2 linked regions of the Homo sapiens genome follow. The protein of the gene in region 1 interacts with the protein of each later gene in a pairwise test. Each region holds a gene or a part of one and is shown on either strand. Other genes may lie near its edges. The genes, in order: LIMS2 and HIPK3.

The links.
Region 2: the proteins of LIMS2 (region 1) and HIPK3 interact in a two-hybrid assay, tested with the Homo sapiens proteins (one large-scale study listed by BioGRID and IntAct).

The regions. Positions count from the first base shown.
Region 1 is NC_000002.12:127,637,737-127,641,357, forward strand, and holds the end of LIMS2 (LIM and senescent cell antigen-like-containing domain protein 2), read right to left. Parts: intron 3,253-3,621; coding exon 3,160-3,252; intron 2,611-3,159; coding exon of another isoform or gene 2,583-2,610; coding exon 2,534-2,582; intron 2,410-2,533; coding exon 2,334-2,409; intron 1,693-2,333; coding exon 1,545-1,692; 3' UTR 690-1,544; downstream 1-689. UniProt on the Homo sapiens protein: Adapter protein in a cytoplasmic complex linking beta-integrins to the actin cytoskeleton, bridges the complex to cell surface receptor tyrosine kinases and growth factor receptors. Plays a role in modulating cell spreading and migration.
Region 2 is NC_000011.10:33,354,408-33,357,797, reverse strand, and holds the end of HIPK3 (homeodomain-interacting protein kinase 3), read right to left. Parts: 3' UTR 775-3,390; downstream 1-774. UniProt on the Homo sapiens protein: Serine/threonine-protein kinase involved in transcription regulation, apoptosis and steroidogenic gene expression. Phosphorylates JUN and RUNX2. Seems to negatively regulate apoptosis by promoting FADD phosphorylation.

The sequences.
Region 1 (3,621 bases):
TGTCTGAGGGAGCAGGGTGTGGCACAAGGTGGACAGGGGGCCTGGGAGGCTCTGGCCCGCAGAGAGCTGCAGAAAAACCAAAATGCCGTGTGACTGACTCCCCCAGGGAACCCGGAGGGCAGCTGCATTCTCCAGAAATGACTTCATCCCTCCCTTTCTGCTTCCTTCCTCCCCCTCCCTTCCTTCCTTCCTGTTTCTCAGACTGGGGAGGGGCACTCATGGGAGAGTTCTCCTCCCAGGCCCCTCCTCACACCTTCTGTCCTTCTCCCCACCCGGGGCATTGATACGCCTGCGCTACCCCCAGGAGGCCAGGGTGGAGGTGCGGCTCTCTGGCTGCTGGCTTCATGCTATGGCCAGCTTATGCCCAGACAGACAGTGGGCAGAGCTGGACATAGCACCTTGGAGGCCTGGATTCCCCCACCTCGCTGGCATGCCCTGTCCCTGCCCACCTCCTCCTCTGCCCACTGGGCCAGCTTATGTGGACCTGGCCACCCAGGCTTGTGAGGACCTGGCAGGGCTAGTCTTCAACTGCTTATGGCAGCCTGGCCTGGGATAGAGGCTAGGGCCCCCTGAACTCGTGCCTGTCTATGTCTGTCCCTCTGTTCAACTGCCCCAGCAGCAGCGTGTCCAGAGCTGCTGCCATCCCCTCCACCCCCGACCCCCGCCACAAACCACGCAGGCTGCTGTGGTTGTGTGAACAAGCCTTCATTGTGCAAGCGTGAGCCCAACAAACAAACACCAGGTCTGCGCTGGCCGAAGACGAAGCGTCCTCCCTGGAGGTGGGAACAAGTCACCTCTGACCACACCTCCTCTGACGCCATCACCTCCTCCTGGCCCCACCCAAGGGCTCGACACAAGCCCCAAGGTCGGGGGGAGAGGGGCGGGGCGGAACCGAGGGCGGAGGCCAAGGTGGGATTCCAGGAAGGCCTTCCGAAGGATGGAGGTGGGTCCTGTCCCTCCAGGTAGCTTGTGGGTGTGGACAGCAGGACTTGCTGGCTCAGTGTGGGCACAAGGACACTGTGCCACTGGTTGAGTGAGTGGTGAGGGATTGGAGGTGGCTCCCAGAGGCCTCCATCTGCATGGCCCTGGCCCTGTGGCTCCAGCAGGCTGCCCTGGCTGTGGGTAGCCCAGGAGCCACATGCGCTTAGTGGGGCCGCTCTGGGGCAGGGGCTCTCACAGGACAGCATGAGCCACTGAGCCGCCTGGGGAGGGCCAGGCCAGGCGGGGAGCTGTGGTGCAATTTGCTCCTGTCCCTGGAGGTCTGTGGGCGGAAGCTGTGGGCACAGGTGGACATGGCTGTCAGACGTGGGGTCATAGGCTCCCACTCCCCAGCTCCTGCCTCCTCACAGACAGAAGCCACGGCCAAGGAGAGGAGAGACATGGGGAAGGCAGAGATGAGGGAACAGGAAGGGAGAAGGCAATGAGGAAAGAGAAAGGGAGGGTAAGATGCGGAGGGCACAGGTGGATGGGGACGAGGGGGCCAAGCATGGACAGCAGGAGGGGAGAAGGCGGAGGGGCCGAGAGGCAGCTGCGCAAGAGGGCCTTCAGGCAGAGTTGAGGTCTGTGGCCTTGGGCTGGGCCTTGCGGGAGGTCAGCTCCGACAGCTTCTTCAGCCGCTTCTTCAGCTCCAGCGGGAACTTCTCGTAGCACCTCTTACACACGGGCTTCATGTCGAACTCCACAAACTTGTTCCTGAGGAGGAAGCTGAGCTGTCAGCAGAGCCCCACGCCCACCCCTTTAACCCCAGACAGGTGACTGTGGAGTGGGCTTCCCTCAGCCCCCAGCCTCCCCACACCAGCCTCTCCTAGCCAGCAGGCCAGGCCCTAGGGTGAGATGGCCAGAGAGCATAGGGATGAGAAGGGCCTTGAGGCTTCCCTTGCCTCCCAGAGGCTTCTCTCAGGTTCTGAAACCCCAGAACCCTCTATGCCTCCCCACAGCCCTTGGAAACCTGGACGCCATCTCTCCTCTCCCAGCTCCAGCCATCCCACACCCCTCGAGGCTTCCTGGATGAGCAGCTGACACTGCTGCTTTTGCATATGCTGTTCCCTGAGCTGGAATGCCCTTCCCTCCCCAGAGCCCAGGGTTCTGGCAGGTGTGTTGGAGGCATGAGTGTTCCTCCTCCTCTCACTGTGCCTGGGGTCCCTGGGGTCCCTGGATCCCCTAGACCCCCTGAACCTGCCCCCATCTCCCTGGGTGGTATAAGGCCGGGCTGCCCCTTGTCCCCACCATATCCCCAGGCCAGACTCAGCTGGTGTGCAGGAGGGCTGCTGAGAGGAAGGACCTGCAGGAGCCCCCTCCACCCTGAGCCCCATCCCACGATCACAGGGACTCACTTCAGGGTGAGCTTGCTGTTGCAGGTGGAGCAGGAGAAGCAGCTCACACACCAGGCCTTGTTGAGGGCCGACACCACTGTGAGGGAAGCGTGGGACTCAGCAGGCCTGGCTAGGCTGCCGCAGGCCCGGCTGGGCTCACAGCTGCAGCACCCAGGCCCCAGGAGAGCAGGTGGGGTGGGGGAGGGAACACAGGGCCTCACCATCGCCTTCAATCACATGGCTGCAGTTGTAGCAGACGTCCCCGAAGAGCTGTGGGCCGAGCAGGCTGTCAGAGTAGCTGCAGGCAGTCACACCCCAGCCCAGGGCCATCATGCAGCCAGCCTGGCCCTCCAACACGGCCCCTCTCAGGCATCTCCCAGGCCCTGCCTCCCAGGGCCCAGCTGCAAGGCTGGGTTGAGGGCACGGCAACCCATGAGAACCACCCTTCCGGGAAGGACAACAGGCTGGGGCGTTGCTCCCCAGAAGGCCCCTCTGCTCTGGCCACTGCTGTCCTGCAAGGAGGTGGGCCCAGGTGGTGACTGCATCCCACCAGCGCCCCCTGCCTTCTGTACCAGAGCAAGGGAGGGAGGGGGTTGCTGGCACTGTCAGCCCCATGTGCCCGGGACCTCACACCAGCCCCAGAACATTCTTCAAAGGAAGACACTGAGACTGAAGAGAGCTGCCCAGGTCTCGAGACCCCAGGCCAGGAGCCAGGGCTGAGGGTGCAGGCCTGGGCTCAGCACCTGGCAGAGCTCCTGAGGGGGTGCCCACAGCCTCCCTTGCTCACGGCAGCTCTCCTGGCCACCCCTCCAGACCCGCATCCCTGAAGGTTCTGCACCGGGCTCACCTGGTTGTAGTGAGTCTCGCAGTAGGCCAGGCCCTTCTTCTCATAGTGCCGGTGCCCCAGGAATGGCTTCTCACACTTGGCACAGACAAAGTGCTGCAAGGACAAAGGGCGGGCCGGGTGGCATCAGGGCTAGAGCGGTGACCCCGAGGGACAGTGGTGACCCGGGGACAACAGTGACCCCAGGAGCCAGTGACTCCAGGGGACCACAGTGGCCCCAGGAGGCAGCAGTGACAGAAGGGGACAGAAAGCAGAGTCTGGGCAGGTGCAGGCCTTTCAGGATTCACACTGGGCAGAGGGGACTGACACCTCTGTGAATGCCCTGGGGTCAGCAGACCCTACCCCTCCTCTAAGGCACTGATGGTAACCTTGTGAGTCACCATCCCCTCCCAGTCTGGCCTCCCCCTCGGCAGCCTCAGCCCCAGGAGTCAGGTGCCAGCCTGGTGCTGCGGCATGGTGGGCCCT
Region 2 (3,390 bases), on another chromosome or scaffold:
AAATGTCCATCAACAAAATAGTTCTGTATACACACAAAGGATTACTATACAGCAATGAGTATAAATGAACTACACACAACATGGATGTATCTTATAAATGTTTAACAAAAAATAGCCAGATGCCAAAGAATGCATATATGTTATACTTCAATTAAACATTGATAGGGGAAGGCAGAAATTGAAAATACGTATTCTCACTATTGTGTTCTGGGGGAGTGCTCCCCTAGAAACTTTCCAACTGAGGTTCCTTGAAAGTTAGATCCTTGAATTATGAGGTGTTGGTATTTTAGGATGTAAGCTGGCCTACTACAATCACATTCTTTCGAAGTCATATGTTTTAAGTATTAAAGATACATGTGAATTCCCTATTCATCCACACATATTGAACAGAAATTATTTCTCTCAAAAAATATTTGCGGAAACTTAATATTGAAGGAAAATGGGACAGGGTCATCTTATGGTTGCAGGTAGTCCGGGTACACTGCCTCAGACTTCGGTTTTAAAAGAACTGATAGAAAGTAGATTAGTTATGGTTTGATATCCTGGTGTGTATCTCAGATTCCAACTCATTGACAATGTGACTTTGTGCAAGTTCCCTAAACATTCTGCAGCTATGCCCTCATTTGTGTAACAAAGATAATAATACCTATCTCACAAGGTGGCTTTGAGAGTTAAATAAGATGATGTAAGTTATTAATAGATACTCAATATTGTTAACCTCTCCCTTCCCTACCCTGTAAGGAGTATTGGGGTGGAAAAAAAGTCAACAAGCTGTTTGCTGCAATATATATATTTTAATTCAAAGTGAATCGACAGTAATACACCATAAATTCTTATTTTGACACTCACCAAAATAGTCACCTGGAAAACCCGCTTTTTGTGACAAAGTACAGAAGGCTTGGTCACATTTAAATCACTGAGAACTAGAGAGAAATACTATCGCAAACCGTAATAGACATTACATCCATAAAATTTTCCCAGTCCTTATTGTAATATTGCACAGTGCAATTGCTACATGGCAAACTAGTGTAGCATAGGAGTAAAAGCAAAAACAAATAAACCAAAGAAAGAAAGCCACAAGTCTAAAATTGTTAAACAATTAACAGTTCAAACTTAGTAATCAAATCTGTATCATTGGATTCATTAAAACAAATCTTCCTACACCTTGCAGTGTATGATTTAACTTTTACTTAACACAGTCCAAGTTTAAAATTAGCAGATTTTAAAAATGAAAATGTTTTGCTAATACAGTAACATATTTAATTAAACACGCTGGAGGAAAAAAAAAACAACTAAATATCAGGATATTTGATTTAAAAAACATTTTGCAAATTAAAATAGTATGCAAATATGCAACTTGGAAATCATGCAGTGTTTTATTTAAGAAAGCATTAAAACCGAAGAAAACTGGTCAAAATGGTTTTTAAAAGGTATAAATCCAGATTACTTTGTCAATATGCTAAATTAAGAATTTAGCAGAATTTTGAAATTTATTTTAAAATACATTAAAATGCCCATGATTGCAATTAAAGAGCAGTGTAGTTAACTGGGATATACCTTTATCAAACATTAATACTGTATTATGAAAATGTTGAAGTTTACCATTTATGTCAATTTAACAAGACTGCTTTAAGTCTTGGAAATTAAAGACAAAAAATACAACATTTCAGGGTAGTAAACATGGCCCTAAACAAAAAGAAAACTCTGTCAGTTTTGTACCTGTTGTGATACAATCAATCCTTTGCACTTGGTGTTTCTGAAACAATGTGTTGCCAGCATTGATTCTTTCCTAAGAAGTAAGCAGATCCTAATAATCTGCTGGAACATATAAATAAAATTAGAAGGCTGTGGAGGGCAGCAAATTTACTTAAATAGTGACCCCATAAATGTGTCATCTGTAAATAATCTTTTAAATTAATCTTAGGCTACTCCTTTTTAAACATTTAATTTTTTATATATATATATTTCTATTTGTATAAAATGCATAGAATTAATTACTAAAAACACTGAAACTTGTGGGGAAAATTAAGTCCTTCATTTTCAGTGTGACTAAAAATGTACTGCTGGTTTTTACTTTATGATCTAATACTGTAATTTTTAAAATCAATTTCAGGCACATTTATTTCATTGATGATTATTAAATAAAACACTGCTTGTGTTAATGGAGTGAAGAAAACTTATCCATTATTAGCTTATTGTGAACGCTGTACTAGAGCTGTACTAGTGGTATACAATTCATTTATCAAAGAAACGCTGTAAATCCAAAACATCTAGAGTTTTACACTCCAATGCTTTGTACTGTTTATTCCAGTAAATGCTGTAAGATTATATTCCAGATTTTTAAGGAAAAAAGTTAAGTCAAGCCTGCAAGATACAGCTTTCTCAAGTGTCTACAATGCCAGTATGAAAATAAAAAATTAAGTTACACTGATACATCCAAGTTTTTTTAATATGCAGTGATGAGCACAAACATTAATAGAGATAAAATACTGATGCAAATAACACACCCCAAAGTAACAAATGCAATTATTTTCCACCATTTACAATACAGTAGTTACAATGACACTCCAAACAGAAAAGCAAAGTAAAAAATCAAAACCCCAATTTCTATTCATGTAATTAGACTTATACAGAAATTAGAAGGCTAAATAACAACTAGTTAATCACCTAATTTCACAGCTATCTGAAGTGGCAATCGTTATATAGCAGCTTATCTATGATACATTCAAGATAAATGATACAATTTATTACTTGCCTGTAAGCTAAAACACAGCCTCAATTTAATACCTTTCCTTAAATTCCACCTTTACACTACAATATACTTGAGGTCTATGCAAAAAGTAGCTACCTTTATATAGGAAATGGATGATTAAGTCTTTGGTGCTGTAAAAGCAACTTCATTTAAACAGACATAACCACTACCATCACCACCACCCAAAAAAGAAAAAAATGTCGGGGAAGGGGGGAACTCAACACACTTCCTAGAAAGAAAAAAAAGCATGTAATTTCTGTCCCTGACGGAATGTATTAAATAAGCAAACATCACCAACAAGCAAAACAAGTACTGCAATGTAAAAATACTTAAAAAAAAAAAAAACCCTCTCACATGCATAAATCAAAAATTGCACACAAAGAACTCACATCTTTTCAAGCTTCAATAGTAAAAGTTCTGCTACTATTTATTAAATACTGCATGGTTTGCCCAAGCTAAGATAAAACCACATCATGAATCAATGAGCATTTTGCATTTTATTATCTACCCAAAGTCATGCCTACTGTACCTCTAAACATTTTATTAAGTCCAATTATACAGCAAACACTCTCAAAATAAACTTAGATTGTATTGCAGTTTCACTTAACAGTATATAAAATGCTGTGCTGTGACAGTTA